3 linked regions of the Homo sapiens genome follow. The protein of the gene in region 3 purifies or fractionates together with the protein of the main gene of each other region. This does not show direct contact. Each region holds a gene or a part of one and is shown on either strand. Other genes may lie near its edges.

The links. Proteins that work in one complex are often made in the same cells at the same time.
Region 1: the proteins of TRIB2 (region 3) and COP1 purify together in Homo sapiens (affinity purification with mass spectrometry; 5 studies listed by BioGRID and IntAct, with this or other methods). This does not show direct contact.
Region 2: the proteins of TRIB2 (region 3) and DET1 purify together in Homo sapiens (affinity purification with mass spectrometry; 3 studies listed by BioGRID and IntAct, with this or other methods). This does not show direct contact.

The regions. Positions count from the first base shown.
Region 1 is NC_000001.11:176,043,268-176,050,295, reverse strand, and holds part of COP1 (E3 ubiquitin-protein ligase COP1), read left to right. Parts: intron 1-3,971; coding exon 3,972-4,115; intron 4,116-6,477; coding exon 6,478-6,586; intron 6,587-7,028. UniProt on the Homo sapiens protein: E3 ubiquitin-protein ligase that mediates ubiquitination and subsequent proteasomal degradation of target proteins.
Region 2 is NC_000015.10:88,529,663-88,536,690, reverse strand, and holds part of DET1 (DET1 homolog), read left to right. Parts: intron 1-309; exon of another isoform or gene 310-356; coding exon of another isoform or gene 357-379; intron 380-4,975; coding exon of another isoform or gene 4,976-4,985; coding exon 4,986-6,068; intron 6,069-7,028. UniProt on the Homo sapiens protein: Component of the E3 ubiquitin ligase DCX DET1-COP1 complex, which is required for ubiquitination and subsequent degradation of target proteins. The complex is involved in JUN ubiquitination and degradation.
Region 3 is NC_000002.12:12,719,934-12,726,961, reverse strand, and holds part of TRIB2 (tribbles homolog 2), read right to left. Parts: intron 3,703-7,028; coding exon 3,410-3,702; intron 1-3,409.

The sequences.
Region 1 (7,028 bases), on a different chromosome or scaffold from region 3:
AGTTTCTTGCCTTGCTGCTTAATCACTTGACTAATGACATTTTTGACAAAGAATACAGCTAGTTTCCTACAGCTGAATTACGTATTTCAGCTGTTGATATAAATCACTCTTTTAACAGTTGAAATGTTTCAAAATGTGAAAGAAAAATGCAATTTATGTCCCCAGAAACACGATTTTTCAAAAGTATACTTGTATGTTGAAATTAAAAACAAATTCTGTGAAATTGAATTTGTCATGCAGTAAATTTTTATAAATCTCTTGTTTTAATTATTACTGCTGACAGTGGATGGCAGAAATGAACGTTGTATAGCAGTAGTAAGACTTAAAGTTTGTTTTTGAATTTAATTGCATAAGCAACATTTCAGTTAATTAGTTTACCTTTTATTTAGTCTCAGCCTAACTAGTCACTGTTTAACTTTTGAAGTACTTTTGCTTGGGTTATCAGATTTCATAATAAAAGTAGTTGAAATATCATACTGTTAATATAAGAGGTCATCTGTTTTGTATTAGTTCTAGAAAGCTTTCTGCACCTGAAAATTACAGTGTTCATTTCAGTTAGTTCATGATCTGTTTTTAGAATCTCATTATGTTCATGTTTGAGAATATATATGATTAAATATGTCAGAGATAGGGAGCAAATGTTTCAGTATCTAGAAGTCCTTAAATCCTGAGTCTTAGTGATGTGGAAGTTCTTCCACTAAAAAAGGTGGTTTGAGGGGGGGGACCTGTTTGTCTTTCTTTCCCTTTTAATCAAAATTTTCTAGAAATAATATTATTCTTTATACTTTTTGATTAATATTTCTATTAAAATCTATTTTTACAGTATAAAAGGATCTTGTTACCCCCAAAATATTTTTAAAAACATACTCTACAGGTTCTTGATACCTTAATATATTAAAAACAAAACATAACCAAAATGTAAGAAAATAATAGCAATGAAATCAAAACAAAAAGTTAACTTTTTAATATGAGAGTTAAGAGTTAGCTAATGTCACTAAATAATAACATGTAGAAAAAAGAGAGAGAGCTGTCTTGAATAACAGGATACCAGCAGAAGAAATAATAGACATATTTAGGTCATCATCTTAATTCTTTTTTTTTTTTTTTTTTTTTTTTTGAGACGGAGTCTCGCTCTGTTGCCCAGGCCGGACTGCGGACTGCAATGGCGCAATCTCGGCTCACTGCAAGCTCCGCTTCCTGGGTTCACGCCATTCTCCTGCCTCAGCCTCCCGAGTAGCTGGGACTACAGGCGCCCGCCACCGCGCCTGGCTAATTTTTTGTATTTTCAGTAGAGACGGGGTTTCACCTTGTTAGCCAGGATGGTCTCGATCTCCTGACCTCATGATCCACCCGCCTCGGCCTCCCAAAGTGCTGGGATTACAGGCGTGAGCCACCGCGCCCGGCCCTTAATTCTTTTGACAGCATTTTTACTTATGTGTCAGTTTTCTCCCTGTAATGTATTTAAGCTATTATTTTGATAGGTTAGTGTTTAAACGTATTATATATGTTAAAACTAATAGTTTAGTAATGGCATACTTTTACTGGCACAACATTGGAATGGTGTTGATTAGCTATGTATATGAGTAGGCGGAGAAAAAGTATTTAGTGATAACTAGTTCACTTGAAGTCTCAGCTATACCAAAACCTCCTAAATTAAAAACAGGATTTCAGTTCTGATAATAACTCTGTCCTTTACCAGATAAAGTAGTATTTCTCCTTCAGTGACATGAGACTATGGGTATAAATTGAGTTGGGATAGATGAATAGTTGTCATCATTATAGTTATGGTGCATTAAAATCCACATGGCAGCAAGTAGTAGCTGAGGCAGCAGTTCAATTGAGGTTGTACAAATAAATCTACTGCATTGCTATAGTATCATACTTTACTGGAGGGAACATTTGCTGAATTGTGCCCTAGTCAGTGACACTTAACTGAATAAATTTTTTTTTTAAATTGGCTGGGCACCATGTCTGACGCCTGAAATCTGTAATCCCAGCACTTTGGGAGGCTGAGGTGGGAGGATTGCTTGAGCCCTGGAGTTCAAGACCAGCCCAGGCGACATAGTGAGACCCCATCTCTGTAAAAAAAAAAAAAAAAAAGAATTTTAATTCTTTAAAAAATTATATAAAATTAAGGAAGCATTTAAAGCTGTAAAGAAAAGTGGGCGTATCAATGTGTGTCTTTAAGGGAAATAGTCCTTGTTGTTGTTGTAGTTGTTTTTTAAGACAGGGTCTTGCTGTGTCACCCAGGCTGGAGTGCAGTGGCACAGTCATGGCTTACTGCAGCTTCAAATTCCTGGGTTCAAGCAGTCCTCCCACCTCAGCCTCCCAAGTCTCTGGAGACAAGAACCCATCACTATGCCTCACTAATTGTTTCATTTTTTTGTAGCGATCGGGTCTCACTATGTTGCCAGGCTGGTCTCAAACTCCTGGACTCAAGGGATCCTCCCACCTCGGTCTCTCAGAGTGCTGGGATTGCAGGCATGAGCCACCGAACCCAGCCTGAAATATTCTTAATGTGTCTTTTTCTTACTTACCATCATCAGTTCAGCAAGCTTCTTAATAAATCATTAATCATTAACTGTTCTGTGAATGGATATTAAGAAAATGGATGTTTGTATTTTTGTATGTAGGTGTTTGTATTTTGTGCATTAAATGAATGCTTAATAGATACAGAGCACTAGCTAGGCATTTTGAGAGAAGAAACACACATACATAGATATTGAAGATACATTCATACACATAGATTTTAAACCTTTAAACCTTTAGCCTTTACACTTTGAGTTTTACATTAAGAGCTTTGATCTGTAATAAAGCATAGTAATTATTAGCACCAGCTCTGAAACCAGACTACCTTGTGTTTGAATCCCACCTCAGCCACTTACAGATTGACTAACTTTGGGCAATTTACCTCACCTCTAATCTTCATTTTCTCATCTGTAAAATGTAGATAATAATAATACATATATCACAGGTTGTTATGAGGACTAAATGAGGTAATACATGCAAAATGTTTTAGTAAGTGAATGATTAATGAATATTAGGTATTATTGTGTAATTAATTGTAGATCAGTGAGAATTCTTATCGCTAAACCTCTAGAAAAGATGCTTAAATCATATTGAGGAATAATGTATGTGATGATTCATTTCAACTTTTACTACCTTTGGGCTAATTAGATTTCCAGCTGGTTATGTAACAACTGTGTTTAGGCTGCAAGTTCTGTAAAAGCGAGTATGATCTTGTACTTGCTTTCAAATAGCTTGTTTTGGAGCTTATATAAAAATGATCAGCAAGAGAGGAGTGAATAACGCTGAAGGAAAGGAGATTATTTATTTATTTATTTATTTAACCTCTTTTGTGATATGAGGAATGTGTATTGGGGTTTTATAATTCAGAGAGATATTTGGGGAGGGGGATTAGGTATGGATTTGGGGAAAAGTAATGATAATTCAGTGGTTCTGTTATATGTATTCCATCCCCTTGTCATCACCCAATTGCTTCAGTAATTCAAATTATATACTAATTTATTTATTAAAAATAAAATTTAATATTGTGAAATTCTACTACCTCCACAAAATGGCAGGGAAATAAGTAGAATGTATGGAAAAATTAGTTGATAATTGTCTTTTGGCATACTTTTAGTATATCAAATGATTCACGCCATTAAATCTTTCTCAGTAAGCTGTAATATGGTTATTAGAACTGAATGAAAAGCATGTCAGGTGTCTTGGAACAAAAGTACACCTGTGCACAATTGTGTAGATATACAAATGTATATATTAAAAGTTTTATATTACACAAATCTCAACAACTTTTAATTTGATATGTGTTGATTACTTAATCTGGATATGAGGTCTAGTACAATTTGAAGGTATTTAAAGTAGATCTTTTATCCTTGTAGACCGAATTACTTTAGAAATAGAAAATAGCAAATTCTGAAATGTTGTCATTACATACTTTTTCCCCTTAGTATTGAATTTGACCGGGATTGTGACTATTTTGCGATTGCTGGAGTTACAAAGAAGATTAAAGTCTATGAATATGACACTGTCATCCAGGATGCAGTGGATATTCATTACCCTGAGAATGAAATGACCTGCAATTCGAAAATCAGGTATTTACATTATTTTCTTGACATGATGCAGTATAGATGTAACAATTTGCATATGTAATTATCATGAGATTATTTTACCTTTGCATGACACTTTTTACTCATGGTGAACACTATTATTGTACTATGTATACAGAGTATATATTATTACTTATATCATCTTTCTTACAGATATTGGTTGCTTTTTTCTTGTGAGGTTAGCCTTTTTTTTTTTTCTGGTTGCCAAATTAAAGTTCTTCTTTCACTTAATCAAATAAAGGTCTTTGTTGGACATGGTTGTTGGAGACTCTATGGAGTACTGAATGAGGATTAATGTAGCTTATGAATAGTATTTGAACATCAGGAATTTTTCCCCTAGCCTGCACATATCTCAACATATTAGAATTGTTTCTAGTTTTAAGAATTTTTTTTACAAGAATATTCTGCTTTTCACTGAAGGAATGGTGTTTATGTTTTCTGTATTAGAGATTATACTTTATAAGCAGTGCTTTTCAAACCTAAAATACTCTTAAACACTAACAGTATGTTAAGACTCTACTCCTGATCTGCTCCCCAAAAAATCTCAGAAGAATTCTAGAATCTGCTTTTTTTTTTTTTTTTTTCCTTCTAAACAAGCTTCCCAAGCTGTTCTCATGAGCACTGGCTTTAAAAGAGAATTATATGAGGAAATCATCTAATAATAACTTTGTATAGAACTTTGAACATTTTCAAAATAGCCATCCTTGAACCTTTTTTATCTTTAATGAATGGCATACATAGTATGTTTGTTACAGTCTTTGTATAATTTATTTGTTATAACTTTCTTTTTTCTAGTTCATTTATAAAAATACTATATCGATAATTGGTGAGCTTCCCCATTCATTTGTGGCACTCATCATTGAGAATCTGTTATAGTTTATGTCCTAAGTGAAGAGGATATAACATGAATTAGATACAAGTTTATTGAATTCTTATATATCAGGCATTATCCTAAGTGCTTGGTCTTTAGCAGACCTATGAAATAGTTACCATTATTGCTCCATTTTATACAAAGAAAGCTGAGCACAGGAAGGTAAATAACCTGCCTAAGATTATACACCTGCTATATAGAGGAGCCAGGATTCAGACTGAAGTAGTTTGGTTCTAGAGTCTGTGCCCTTAAACATTTCCTGCTCCTTATTTATAAAATGGAGGTCACAATAGTAATACTTATTTAATAGGATTGTACTTTTAAAAAATCCCCATAATGCACTCAGAACAACACTTGGCCCATGGCAAGTACTCATAATATATTACATAATGAAAACGTGGATTAGAAAGTTTAAATGTGCTGTCTACCTGTTCTGTATTTGTATGTGTAAAAATGTGCAATACTTCCTGATATATTGGAATAAATGGTGAAAGCGCTCAAGGCTGAAAGCTGTGGGCCTGGGGCTGAAAGGATCAATACCTAAGGATGCCTAAAATAGATTCGGAGCACATCTACTGTGAAAGTGTACTAAATTAGCCAGAGCCACAGCTAATAAGTAACAGATCTGGAATTTGAACTCAAGTCTACCTAAATTCAAAATGTGTCTCTTAATTGTTCCAGATAATTTCTACCAGAAATTCTAATTAAGTATATTTAAAAATGCAAATAAACTCTTCCAGTCTCTGGAATTTAGCATCAATGCAACTAGTAGAAAGCAAAAGACCTTGTGTTCATGTCTTAGAAGTTACCTACATTAACTGCCTTCTAAGTAACTTCTTCCATAATATGCATTCCCTTTACTATATGCGTGATGCAGATATGTATCTCAGCAGAAGTTTTTAGATGTTGTAGACTTCTGGAGTACTTGAGAATAGCCAAAACCATAAATGATAAAAGTTTGATTCTAACTTTTAGATGCTTTTAATTGGAATTTTAGTCATAAGTTATAATTAGTCAAGTCAAGACTTTTGGGATGTAAATACAGAAACCCAATTCACTGTAGTTTATTTGGCTTATATGATTTGGCACAACTGGATCCAGGGGGTTAAACAGTCTCATCAGGTCTGTCATTCTGCCATGGTATGCCTTGAGCCCTCTGGATAGTATCACCTTCACTGATAGACATCGTTTCCTCATGTATCAAAGATGGCCAGTGATAGCTCTAGGCTCACATCCATCTTAACAGCTAGTGATCACAGTAAAAGGTGGTTAGGGTCATTACTTGTTAATTTTTATTTTTAAAATTTCAAAATTATTGGTATGTCTTTTCCCAGGTATGTTGTGGGCAGAATAATGATTGTGAACTGATAGAGACCATTTTAAAATAGTGCAAATCTTTCTGAACACATTAAAATTATTTTTATCCCATTGTTATTTATTTTTATGTAAAGTAACTTTTAACTGTATTTCTTTCAGCTGTATCAGTTGGAGTAGTTACCATAAGAACCTGTTAGCTAGCAGTGATTATGAAGGCACTGTTATTTTATGGGATGGATTCACAGGACAGAGGTCAAAGGTCTATCAGGTAAATAAGGGTACTAGTTACATGTTATATGAATCATACATTTGGTTTGTTAAAACTTTTAGAACTTCATGTGCCTTATAATTACAGATTTGAAGTCACTATTTAGTATTTTTTATACCTGTGTAACACCTATGCAATACCAAATGCTTTTTTTTCCTGTCTCCCACTTTTGGTACCATATGCTTTTCCAAAGCATTTCTTCAGACTTCGGTCTTTATGGAATGTATCAGGTAAATTTCTAAAAGCAATAATTTTGGTAAATGTATAAAAAGTTTTGGAAGTACTTTATATCAACATCTTATTTGCTTTTCATTTGTTTTCTAGCCTGTTGTCTTTCCCTCTCCCCGTAACAATAAATTGATATCAGGTTTTTTTTTTTCTTGCTTTATTCATTTTGAGATCTGTATTCTATCTGAGGCTACTGTCTTCTTTCTGCTTCCAG
Region 2 (7,028 bases), on a different chromosome or scaffold from region 3:
CAAGCAGTTCTCCTGCCTCAGCCTCCTGTGTAGCTGGAGTCCCCGCCACCATGCCCAGCTAATTTTTGTATTTTTAGTAGAGATGGAGTTTCACTATGTTGGCCAGGCTGGTCTCGAACTCCTGACCTTGTGACCTCCCTGCCTCAGCCTCCCAAAGTGCTGGTATTACAGGCGTGAGCCACTGCACCCGGCCAGTTTGTTCCTCTTTTACTTTGTTTAGTGTATTCTTATTCTTCAAGGCTCATACCAATTGTTGCTCCATTAATTATTTTAACATATTTATGAGCGCTTAACTGTCCCTTCTCCTAGGTGCTGGGAATACAGCAAGGAATTAGACCAGTTCCCTGCTCTCTGGTATGGTGGGACAGATACTAAAAAGGTAAACAACTTAATTTCAGGAAGAGATAAAGACCATTAATAATATAGGGTGTATCAGTAAATTCATGTGGGCAGACGTAAGGTGCCTGGGGAAGATTTCTGAGGAGGTACTATTTTAGCTGAGACTTGAATGATGAAACAGAGGCAGATCTTTCAGCACTTAAATAATGTTGTTCCACTTCTTTCTAACTTCCATGGTTTCTGATGAGAAATCTACAGACATTTGAATTGTTGCACCTCTATAGGTGATACGTGGTTTCTATCTGGTTACTTTAGAGGTTTTTACTGTATATCTTTTAGTTTTTTCCATTTTAGCTATGATGTGCCTGGGCATGGATTTCTTTGGATTTATCATATTTGAGGGTCTCTGAACTTCCTGAATTTGGGGGGTCTCTGAACCTTTTGAATTGGAGTTTATATCTTTAGCCAAATTTGGGAAATTTCCTTCCTCCTTCCCTTGCTTCCTTCCTCTCTCCCTTCCTTTCTTCTTTCCTTCCTTTCTTTCATCTTTCTTTTTTTCCCCTTCCTTCCTTTCTTTCTTTCTTTTTTTCTTTCTTTTGACAGAGTCTCACTGCATTGCCCAGGCTGGAGTGCAGTGGCATGATCTCAGCTCACTTCAGCCTCTGCTTCCCAGGCTCAAGTGATCCTCCCACCTCAGCCTCCTGAGTAGCTGTGACTACAAGTGCACACCACTGTGCCCGGCTACTTTTTGTATTTTTAGTAGAGATGGGGTTTTGCCATGATGCCCAGGCTGGTCTTGAACTCCTGGGCTCAAGCAATTTGCCCATCTCAGCCTCCCAAAGTTCTGGGATTATGGATGTGTGCCACCACCACCAACTATTACAGCCATTATTTCTTAATTTTTTTTTTTTTTCTTAGCATTCTACTCCTCAAGATCAGGGTGTTACAACTTTTGATATTTTCCCTAGGGCCCTGAGGCTTTACTGACTTTTTTTCAGTCTTTTTATTTTTTCCCTCTTTTGTTCACATTGGGTAATGTATACTAATCTATCTTCAGGGTGACTGACTCATTTCTCTGATGACTTCATTCTGCCCTTGAGCCCATCAGTGAGTTTTTTATTCTTTTTCAGAATTGTTTTTAAATTTTTAAAAGATATTTTACTAGAGTCTATGGAAGCTAGAAGAGTTTTGTATGCTGGTTATTGCTTTTTCAGCTCTAAACTTCTTATCTGGATCTTTAAGAAATATCTTCTGTTTCTTAGCTGAGACTTTGTTTTTCCATCATTTCAAGAGTGTTTGTGATTACTTATTGGAACATTTTTATAATAGGTACTTCAAAATCTGTCTCAGAGAATTCCAACTTTTGTAGCATCTCAACATTGGTGTCTGTCAATTGTCTTTTCTAGATTGAGTTTTTTCCTAGTACTTCATATGCTGAATGATTTTGGATTGTTTCCTAGACATTTTGAATATTATAAGATGATAGGGCTTGTTTAAATCCTAAGAGGATGTTGGTGATTTTTGGCTTGGTAGGCAATCTACCTAATTAGCTTCAGGGAATTTGCAATTTGTAACTCTCTTTAGGCTATGGTTCTAATGGCAGATGAATTTTCAGAAAGTCTTTGCAGTGCTATTTGGATCTGTCCCATGTATGTGACATTCAGTGGCCAGTCTGCAATCTGGGTGTTGATTATTTCAGTTCTCAAAGCCTTTAGTATGATTTGGACCAGATCCACACGTGTGCAGCTTGGGAGTTCATGAACAACTTCATGATGTTACTTTTCTGAGCTCCTCCCCATCTGATATCTCCCCAGTACCTTCTGGTTCCACTGGGGTCTCCCTTTTGATCCTCTGATGACAAAATTGGGGCTTTAATTATCCTTCCTTGCAACACACTTGCTCTTCAAGCAGCAGGAGAACCAGGGGAGACAATGTTAACCTCACTGCCCATTCAGTGGTACTTTATTGTTAGCCAATTGGTTTTTCTCATATGCCTGTCTTATGCATTCTGTCTAGGTTTTATAGCTGCATTTTTAGTGGGAGAGAGAAGGTGGTGTTTGATTATTCCATCTTATCTGGCAACAGCTTTATAACTTAAGTTTTTCACTAAATGCCGTTGACTTTTATGGCCTGTGATTTAACTTTGATTTGAATCAAGGTATAATAAAACAATTAGAAGACTTTGCCATATAATAGATGCCCCATAAATATTAAAACATATTTTTATTGTGATTTTAAAATAGCCTAACATTTACCGTCTTAACTGATTGTAAGTGTACAGTTCAGTAGTATTAAGTATATTCACATTGTGAAATTGATCTCGAGAAGTTTTTCATCTTGAAAATCTGAAAAGTCTAACCCATTCAACAGCACCTTCTCTTTCCCCTCCTGCTAGTCCCTGGTGACCACCATTCTTCTTTGTTTCTGTGAATTTGATTCCTTTTTCTTTTTTTAATGATAAGTATTTTACATTAATTTTTTTTTTTTTTTTTTTTTTTTAGAGATTGGGTCTTGCTCTGTTGCCCAAGCTAGACTCAAACTCCTGGGCTCAAGTGGTCCACCTCAGCCTCCCAAGTAGCTGGGATTACAGGTGTGTGCTATGGCACCTGGCTGTTAAATTTGATTACGTTTGATACTTCATTTAAGTGGAATCATACAGTATTTGTCTGTTTGTGATTGGCTTATTTGACTTCACATAATGTCCTCAAGTTTCAGTGATGTAGCATATGTCAGAATTTTCTTCCTTTTGAAGGCCGAGTAATATTCCTTTGTGTGTATATACCATATTTTGTTTATCCACTCATCCATCAGTGAACTTTTGGGTTGCTTCCATCTCTTGACTACTATGAATAGCGCTGATATGAACATGGGTGTGCAAATATCTCTTAGAAATCCTGCTTTCAGTTATTTTGGATTTATACCCAGAAGTAGAATTGTTGGATCTTATGGTAGTTCTAATTTTCTTCAAGGAACCTTCATACTGTTTTCCTTAGTAGCTGTACTATTTTTCAGTTCCACCAACAATGCACAAGGGTTCAACTTCCTCTATGTCCTCAATGAAACTTGTCATTTTCTTTTTTTAAAAAAAGCAGTCGTTCTAATGGGTGTGAGGTGATATCCCATTGTAGTTTTGATTTACATTTCTCTGATGATTAGTGATGTTGAGCATCTATCTTTTCATATGCTTTGTGGCCATTTGTATAGGAGAAATGTCTGTTCCAGTACTTTGACCATTTTAAAATTGGGTATATGATTTTTTGTTATTGAGTTATAGGAGTTCTTTATATGTTCTAGATATTAACCCTTTATCCAATATATGATTTGCAAATATTTTCTTCCATTCTGTAGAAAGCCCTTTCACTCGGTTGATTGTGTCCTTTGATCACAGAAGTTTTAAGTTTGATGTATTCCCATTTGTCTATTTTTGTCTTGGTCGCCTATGCCTTTTGTGTCTTATCCAAGAAATCACTGCCAGATCTGATGTCATGAAGCTTTCCTCCTGTATTTTCTTCTAGTAGTTTTATAGTTATGGGTCTTATATTTAGATTCTTTTCCTATTTTGGGTTAATTTTTGTATAGGGTGTAAGATAGGGTCTGACTTCATTCTTTTGCATGTGGCTATTCAGTTTTCCCAACACCATTTGTTGAAGTGACTGTCCTTTTTCTATTGAGTAGTAGTAGGACCTTATCAAAGATTGTTTAACCATATATGCCAGAGTTTATCTGTGGGCCATTTCATTGGTCTGTGTCTGTCTTTATCCAGTACCACAATTTTTTGATTACTGTGGTTTGTAATATATTTTGAAATCAAGAGGCTTGAATCCTCTTTGTTCTTTTTCAAAATTATTTTGTGTATTTGGAGGCCCTTGAGATACCATATGAATTTTAGGATGAATTTTTTATCTTTGTGAAAAGTGCTATTAGGATTTTGATAGGGTTTGTATTGAATCTGTAGATTATTTTGGGTAATATGGATATCTTAACAGCCCAATAAATATTTTTTGCTGGAATGAATGCACATTGAATATGATTTTTTTGTTTGTTTGTTTGAGATAGAGTCTCACTCTGTTGCCCAGGCTGGAGTGCAGTGTTGTGACCACGGCTTATTGCAGCTTCGATGATCCAAGCTTAAACAATCCTTCCACTTCAGCCTCTCAAGTAGCTGGAACTACAGTCATGTGCCACCATGCCTAGCTAATTTTTATATTTTTTTGTAGAGACAGGGTTTTGCCATGTTTTCCAGGCTGGGCTTGAACTAGTGAGCTCAGGTGATCCACTTGCTTCGGCCTCCCAAAGTGTTGGGATTACAGGTGTGAGCCACTGCGCCCAGCCGAATGTGTCTTATACTGTTCAAATTTGTAGTTGTAGGTTTTTTTCTGTTGAACTTTCCCAACAGCTGAGCATACTTGGAAGGTATTCCTAGTGAACTAGATCCTTCCCTTAGACCTGTTTCTAGACTTAGAAATGTTAGGACCACTTACTCAGTATAATCTGGGAAGTAGTAATGCCAGTCACTGTCATCTTGGGAGCTCCTAGGTTCAGGATATAAGAAGAGAAATCTGTTTCACTTGTATATATTTATATTTTGGTAAATTCTGTTTCACTTTCTTGACTTCTGCTTTACTTTTCTGTTTAGAGATGTGATAATGGATCATCATGTTTCTACCATCAAGCCTCGAAGAATCCAAAACCAAAATGTCATTCACCGCTTGGAACGCCGGCGGATCAGTTCAGGCAAGGCAGGTACCCACTGGCACCAAGTCCGAGTGTTCCATCAGAATGTCTTCCCCAACTTCACAGTTGTCAACGTTGAAAAGCCTCCTTGTTTCTTGCGTAAATTCTCACCTGATGGACGCTACTTTATTGCTTTTTCTTCAGACCAGACATCTCTTGAAATCTATGAGTACCAGGGCTGCCAGGCAGCAGAGGACCTACTGCAGGGATACGAAGGAGAAATCCTGTCCAATGGCAATGACCAGCGGTCAGTGAATATCCGGGGCCGGCTCTTTGAACGCTTTTTTGTCCTGCTGCACATTACCAATGTTGCGGCCAATGGTGAGCACCTGAACCGGGAGTGTAGTCTCTTCACTGATGACTGCCGCTGTGTCATCGTGGGCTCAGCTGCCTACCTCCCAGATGAGCCTCACCCTCCATTTTTTGAGGTATATCGGAACAGTGAATCAGTGACCCCCAACCCACGGTCCCCTCTAGAAGACTATTCCCTCCATATCATTGACCTTCACACCGGCCGCTTATGTGATACACGCACGTTCAAGTGTGACAAGGTGGTCTTGTCACACAACCAAGGGCTGTACTTGTACAAAAACATCCTGGCCATCTTGTCTGTGCAACAACAGACCATCCATGTCTTCCAGGTGACTCCTGAAGGCACTTTCATTGATGTGCGGACCATTGGCCGCTTTTGCTATGAGGATGACCTGCTCACTGTGTCAGCTGTTTTCCCTGAGGTACAGCGGGACAGTCAGACAGGCATGGCCAATCCCTTTAGGGATCCTTTCATCAATTCCCTCAAACACCGGTTGCTGGTATATTTGTGGCGCCGGGCAGAACAGGATGGTAGTGCAATGGCCAAGAGGCGCTTCTTCCAGTATTTTGACCAACTGCGGCAGCTGCGAATGTGGAAAATGCAGCTTCTGGATGAAAACCACCTGTTTATCAAGTACACTAGTGAGGATGTAGTAACACTGCGAGTCACAGATCCATCACAGGTATGAGGTACACTCCTGCCTTTTACTTGTCTAATCTCCTTGGCAAAATGGGAAGGTTTCTCTGTTTGTTTATAGCCCACCCCTCAGAAATAGACATTTCACGTAGTCTGAATTGATATCCTAGGGCCCAAACTTAAAATCAGCTCCATTTTTCTCTGGTCATATGTATTTATCTGGACAAATGGAAGCTAAAGTTCAAGTCATTGACAGGAAGATAGTCACCTCTGATTACTACCCTAACTCTTCTGCAGAGTATTTTCAGTACTCATGAGATGGAAGCCCAAATGCTACAAGGTCAAGGTTTGGACTACTTATGGATAACCTCCCTTGATTTTGTAAGACTGTATTATTGGTCTGGCTGTTTTAGTTCTGGCAATGAGAATGAGTACACCATACCAAAAAGAAAATTCTCTAAGTAACCCCACTTTCATCCTTAAATGGTTAATGTCAATTTACTTCTCTGTAAAGTACTATAAAGTCCTATTTATAAGGTAACTAATAAGTGCATTCATTTGGCAGAATTAAGTTTTGTGACTTTACCCTGACCTTGCCCACATGCTGGGACATAGGTTGTAGAGCAGTGAAGAGGTCAAAAGGAAGCTGAAATTTATGATCCGTGAGGAGAGTCATCAGGACAGCAAATCTTAAAGGTTTTTCAGTTTGGGGGAAGAATGCCTTTCTTTCAGTAGGGGGAAGAAGCATTTCCCAAAAGGGAATAAGGTGATATAAAGAGCACAGAACTGCTAAGATTTGGGGATTGAAAAACTATGTTGAAATTAAGGGTAATTTGGGCATTTGTCTTTGAAAACCTCTCCACTTCAGTGTTGACCAAGTTAGACAACTACCTTTCTACACCTATGTCTCCCCATTCTCCTGTTTGCAGATTGTCTCCTTAGACACTAGTTTGGAAATTCAGAACAACCAGCAAATCAGTAAACCACGAAGTCAACTGAGTTTGGT
Region 3 (7,028 bases):
TGGCAGTTCCACTAACAACGTTTCCATGGATGGCCATGGATGCAGAGTCCCAGATGGCACACAATCGAAACTTTAGGCACAAGGAGTCAGCCCATAGGCAGGTCTTCTTCTGCACCAGGTGGGCCTCAGCCAATTTCACACGTAAAGCCTGCACTTTCGATTGCTTTCCAGATCACCAGAGTTCAAGAAGCACATCACTGAGAAGAAGACTGATGCGCAAAAGAGGTGTGTGATGGTCAGAAGATGAATAAAGCAGCACTTCCCAAATTTGCTTCTTTGCTTTTTCACCGTGGGACCAATGCCCAAAAGGTGAGAAAACAGACATTAACTCTGTGGTTTAGCTTTCCAAAAGCCTTTAAAATTTAACCCATTGCTTCCTTACACTTTCGATGTTGTTGAGGGAGAAGGAAGCTTTAGCTCCACTAAAAGTGATGCAATTAGGGTGGAAGATGAGAGTTCCCAGCAGCAAGCATGGAGCCAATGAGGTCCTGGGCCCCTGACACTTGGCCTCACACTCTTCCCTCAGGAAGTGCTGGCAATGTGCTCCATGTAGGCCACCATGCAGGCCAAATAAAAGAGAATCTGCCATGAAACTCAATGCTGCCAGGAGGCAGAGAAGGAGAAATACATTGTGGAACAAAAAGCAGAAGTTTCACATTCTGGAATCGAGAGGTTAAAATACAAAACAACAAGAAGAAAAAGGTGACTAGGCATGATTCCCCTTTCACAAAAAGTTGATAGTTGGATTTTAGAAAAACAAAAAAGCTCTTTATCAATCAGCTACTGCTGAGAACATTCAAAATGTCCTTGAAAACAGAGGTGACCTTCTCAGAGCTGCCCAGACAGACACTTGTCATGTTCCTGAAAAGCAAGCCCACTGGGACCTCCATGTGACTTGGGCTGGAAGAAGAGCTCTCGATGGAATGACAGGATTTCCAGGCTGGCTGCACCCTCAGACTGGCTGTGTAACATTAAGCCAGCTAGGTGACCCTGCCATGAGGCCAAGTAACCTCACTGATCAGATGGAGGAGTTCTCATTTTCTCCAAGGTCCTACAGGGCATCAGCCTCAAGGCTGGCCCCTGGGGCAACACGGCTGCATGGCCAAAGGGGCTATCACACATGCCACCATGCTGTAGGGACTATATAGGCCAGCTCCCTACAGTCCTTTACATTCTCTTTTTACCTTGGAAAATGCTCTTGAAAATGAAAAAGGATTTTGCTTTGACATGTTTACTCCAGGCAATTGTTTCGGTTTCACATTCACACTGGATACTCCTTTCTGGTTATCTCTGGACAGGGTCATGCTCTTTCGCGAAAGTCAAACGTAACTTCCAGACGGAATGTCAGAGGCACACACTCCTGAGGTTGGAAGCTTCTTCCCTGGATCCTGGGACATCAAGGATTTTGGCGTGTGATGACACACTCATAAAGGAGAAGCAAAGGCTGGGTGGGAGTAAAAGCCCTCCACAGCCCAGGTGAGGCCTGGCTGTGCTTCACTGGCTCCTAGCTAGCTGTGTGCACTGGGGCGTGCTCTCACCTCTGGAGTTCTGCCTCCTGGCAGCAAACCAAGAGAGTGCCACACAGACTATGCAACCTCCGGGTCCACTTTTGTTCCCATGTTCTATGACTTGGGGACCTCCACCCTGCTCTACTCATTTGCACAAACATGTATTCACTATGGGGGTCCTATCCCTGAATAGGCCATTCCTTCTACTCGTTGGTGCCCGAGAGTTCCTCCCTATGGAAACACAATCAAAGACGACACTTAAAAACACAGATCCCTGCGAGAGAGGGCATTTGCTGTCCCCATGCCCTCTGGCAGACAAATGAATTTCTTGAGAGCTGACTTACTAGTGAATGTGGCCTTACTTCTGCTCTTTCCTGTCCGTAACTTTGGGACTTCACCACGTTGCACTTTGGAGCTCTCGTCTATACAATGGACATGATGACATTCACTTCAATAGGGAGAGAGAATTAAACTTTAACCTTATGGTAAGAGGTAAACAAATATGACCTCTTATTTTTGTAGGTGCAGTTATTAAATCTCCAAGAAAGGTGGAACATACAAGGGTAGAGAGAATACCTTTGTCAGTATCGTTGGGGGTCAACATATATTCATCTTCTAAATGAGAATATTCAAAGAAGCACATACACCAATTTATTATTAATTGAAAAGACCTTAGAGCCAATACAGCATACAGAAGGTAACAGAAGGAGAAATATGAGGCTGGTAGGGGGAGGGTGGAAACAGACGAAGGACCAATCCAAGATCACAGAGGGTATCGAAGGCAAAACCAGGGGAAACATCTCCAGGCTCCAGGGGCAGAGGCATCTGAGCGGAAGAGAAAAGGTAAATGTGGTTCCACACTCTAAATCTTCCAACAGCTGCCCCTTCTCAGTTTGTTAATAAAGGTAAAGGCATTCACAAGCAAAGATCAAGATATGAGCTGGTCTCCACATTATGTGGGGCCTCATTCAGGAACTACGGTGAGCAATGAATACAGATTTGTTGCCTCTGTCCCTCTAAACTCATATTCTTAAAAAGAACAAAAAGGGCTTGAAGGAGTTCTTGTAATCAAAATCGGCTGGGAGAGAAAGCAGGGCCCCAGCAGAGTCTGCTAAATAGAAGGTAATGAGTTAACGGCATAAGCCAGTTGCCTGCATCCTGTCCAGCTGTCTCCTCCAATAACCAAGACCTCTGCACTGCCATGCATTTGCATCAGCAGTTTCCTCACCTGGAATGCGGTCTTTCCCACATTTCCTGAAATCCAGTCATCTTTCGAGTCTTGGCTCCAAAATCACCCCTCCTGTAAAACCTTCCTTGACTCTCCAAGTCCTAGGGAGAACTGACATGTCCCCACCACCCCAGTTCTCATCCCACCCAGCACGGACCTCTATTCTGAGCTGGTAGCATTTCCTTTATAGGTCCGTTGGCTATCTAATTCATCTAGATATTAATAGTACTGAGAATTGTGACTAATACCTAATATAAGCTTAGGTAAGAGCTACTGAATGAGTGCATGGATGAATGAATTATAAATGACTGATTCTGGCTGCTGAGTGTTCTGCGGGTAGAATTTTCAAGGCCCTGCCTTTACTGGCATTGAAAATGTCAAAGAGGTTTGCAGCCACCTTCGGAATTCAAGACACCTAATCATACATATTCATTGGGTCACAGAATATCCTGGTACCTGTCCTTTGAGCACCAGATGACACCTTTAGAATAGTAGCTATTTGTTTTCCCAAACACTTGAAAATTGCAATATTCACTTCCTTTTGCCCTCCTAAGATTCCTTCCCCTCATCTGGACCACAGACGGCAAAAAAACGTCCATTCAAGACTTTTCTAGGAAGCTGTTGTTAGGAGCAGTCCATCACAGTACCCAGGTCTGGACAGGATGAGACCTACCTCTCTTCGTCCTTAAAGATGAATTTCCGCAGCTTGAGGTCCCGCAGCACCAGCCCCCCGTCATGGCAGTGGGCCACTGCCGAGGCAATCTGGTAGAACAGTCTGGCTGCCTCCTCCTCTCTCAGCTTCTTGCAGGTGCGGACGAAGGAATGCATGTCCCCATAGCTTCGCTCAAAGAACACATAGGCTTTGGTCTCACCCAGGATAATTTCAGTGATTTGGTTGATGTTACTATGAGCAGACAGGCAAAAGCACGGTGCCAGGGATTCCTGGTAGCAGCTGATATCAAACACCTACGACAGGATTAACAGTAAGACCAAAGTCAGAGGTGCCTCTTGTACAACCAAAACACATAATGCTGCACCTCCCACAGGTATGGGCTTTTGAGATGACAGAAAATATGCTGAACTTGGACCCAGACCACATTGGCCCTGCCTCCTACCAGCTGTGTGGCACTAAACAAGTCACTTAACCTCTCGGAGCCTCCAAATCTTTACGTACAACATGGGAAACTGATACTTGACTCACAGTGTTAGGAGGATTATATGAGAAAATGAAGGTGATAGTGCTTTGCAAAACGTAATGCAGTACAGAAATAATAATTTTCATTACTTTTGTCTCTAGCCCAATTGCGTGTTTATAGAACTAAGGCAAAATTGGAGAGAAAGTGATCCACCTCAATGACATCAACAACACTTTATTTGCCTTCAAAAATAAAAAAAAAGAAATGCACATAAACAGGCATTATACAACACATGAGCAACTAAGAGAATAAACAGCTAGCTTTTGCCCAGTGGTCTCTAATTCAATACTTTCATTTTACAGATATGGAAACTGAGGCTCAGAGAATGAGCCAAAACTCAAGCCCCCAGTGGCAGAGGTAGGAATATGATAGAATCCTTCTGAATAGGGAAGCAGCCTTGCTTCTTCCTCTCTTCCCTCCACAGATATCTAACTCAATGAACCAGTTATGCAATGATTTTCTATGAATCAAAATTAGCCTGCAAAATGCCAACTCATTGTGCGGTTGCTTAAAAAGAAAAGGCACCATCAATACCTTTTGAAACAGACCTAACAGCAATTAACACTACAGAGAATTTTTGAGGTTATATAAAAGGCGCTTTCATTCATTTCAAGACCTCCACTAAATCAGGAATACAAGTCCCTGGGTCTGGAATGTGGTTTTTCTATCTGCCTGGGATGTGGGTAAGATGAATCTATTCAGTGTGTGCGTGAGCCAGGGGCATGCGTGGGTGAGCTTCGCTGGAAAGCATCTGAGGCAGGAACGCCCTAACAATACACTGCATGCTATCAGTTCACAATGATTTAGCTGCCTAAATCGCTTTTTCACTAGTTAGACATACTTTCTTTCATCATCATTTTGCAGTGTGGTAGGAAATATGCTGGACTGGAAGTCGGCAACCTTGAGGCACTAATCCTGGCCCTGCCACCAATAATCTGGATGAGATGGATAAAGAGCTTAGGGTTACTGGACCTCCCTCCTCTTCATAAAATGAAGATGTTGATTTAGAACAGTGTTAACCTTTTTTGGGTCCTGATGTCACATAAAATCTGATAAAAGCTCTGTTCCCTCTTAGCTGACAATGCCCGTTCTCAAATGCATGCACGATACCGGATTCATTTTAAGGGGATTCACGGGCTTTCTGAAGCCCATCCAAAGCCACAGACTGCTATTTAAGAATCCATGAGTTAAGTTGCTCTAAGCTTCAAAAAATTGAAACAAAATCTGTGAGTCAAACAGGGATGTAAAACCTCAAGAGTTGCTGCTAACACGGCCAAGGAAGCAAAGTTAACAGTAATGTTGTGAATGAACCATAACGAGGCATCTCAGAAAAGCGGCACAGCTGCTGCCACTATAACCTAGAATTTAAGAAAGAATACTTCAACATCTCCAGAGACCACAAATCACACACTGATACTGTCAAATGATGACCCAAGAGCAGTGACCTAAGAGGCCTGTTCAATTAGGAATCTGAAATGCTTGAATCAACTTTAACACCCTGAATGCAGGCAACAGAAACCCAGGGAAGCCTCAAAAATTTCGAGGAGTAATAAGCTTTGCAGTGGCTAACGTAAACACTGCATCATATAATGAAGATGCTGTGTTCTGAAATACCAGGTTGCAGCTTCTGTCGCCAGTGCTCACAGAGTTATGATTATTTATAATCTACTTCCTGTTTCCAGGTGCATTTACAAAAACATAAAAGGTGACTTTTGCTCAGCACTTTTAGCCTATTATCCTGCTCCACTGCTGAAAAACTGGAGACAGAATTTTTAAAAAACTAACATATTTGTGGCAGCTTCAAATGTAGCCATACCTTTTGTAGAAGAGACCAAATTCCAAGATGGTGGACAGAGTATGAAAAATAAAATAAGTACTTATGTTTTCCCACACGAGAAGGAGCCAAACTTTTATTAGTAGCTATCAGGGGCATTTAGGGGCTTGGACTGGTATTTAAACCATCATCTTCACGTGCAAAATCAAGCCACAAGCCTGGTGCCAGCTTCTTTACATGTTTAATTTGGAGCCTTGGTTATGTAATGTGACAGTTCAGATAAGGCAGTAAGATTAGGCCATCATTAATAACATTTGCAAAAAAAAAGTACCCATTCTGCCAAGATAGTAATTATGTCAATCTGCACAGTAGCTACCAGTATCTCCATGAAAACATACAGTTAAAGACTCCTTAAAGTGCCTTCATTCATCTAGCAAAAGTAGGTACATGGAGACAATAAGCAGCCTTGATTATTTTGTTTAAATGACTCTGGAATCTCTATTCCTCCAAATAGTGTCCTATGGAATTCTCTACGCAGTCCCCTATAATAAATAGCATCTTTACATTTGATCTGTTTTTGCAAAGAATTTTTTCATTGGTCAACACACAGCTAGGAAACATGAGCCTTCTATTCTAAGACATCAAAAGGAACTAGATTCAATGTGTAGATTTCACTGAGCCTTAAAGTAAGCTAAGAGACCACAGCATATATATCTCTCAGGGCAGTTCAGAGAAGCAGCCTTATAAAACTCTCTTGGAGCTTCTTCGGAGATACACAACTATGCTTGCATAAGAAGTCACCCACATCATCTATGGTAAAAAGTCAGGAAAACAGAAGCTGCTGTGTCTTAAAGGGATGACCTCTGTCAAGCAGAACAATGATACTGCACTTAAATCCACTTGCAGCCACACTGTAATTGGTGAGGGGCTGATTCAATCTTTGCAATAACTAAACCAGCAGATTAAGTCCAATTTGAGGCCAGAGCACAAGTCTGCAAATGACACTGTAAGGTCAGCCCAAAGTGAAATATGTCTTGCAAAATCTGGAGAAAGAATGAGCAGAGGCCAGAGTCACCTCTGATTTTAAACAAAGAAGTAACAGCCAGATGCCCCTGCAGAATTTGGCTGCAGAGTCCCTATACTTAAAAGCATCTCCAGCCTTTGAAAAATATTAAAATGCTGTACTGAAGTTGAGCAAAAGGAATGAAAATATTCACTGCTGGGTGATTGTGCATATTTCATACAAGAGTGGCAGTTCTGTGGAATTCATTCATTTCAAAGGATGACTATCCTATTGTGCAACCTTGCAGACTTCTGAGAAT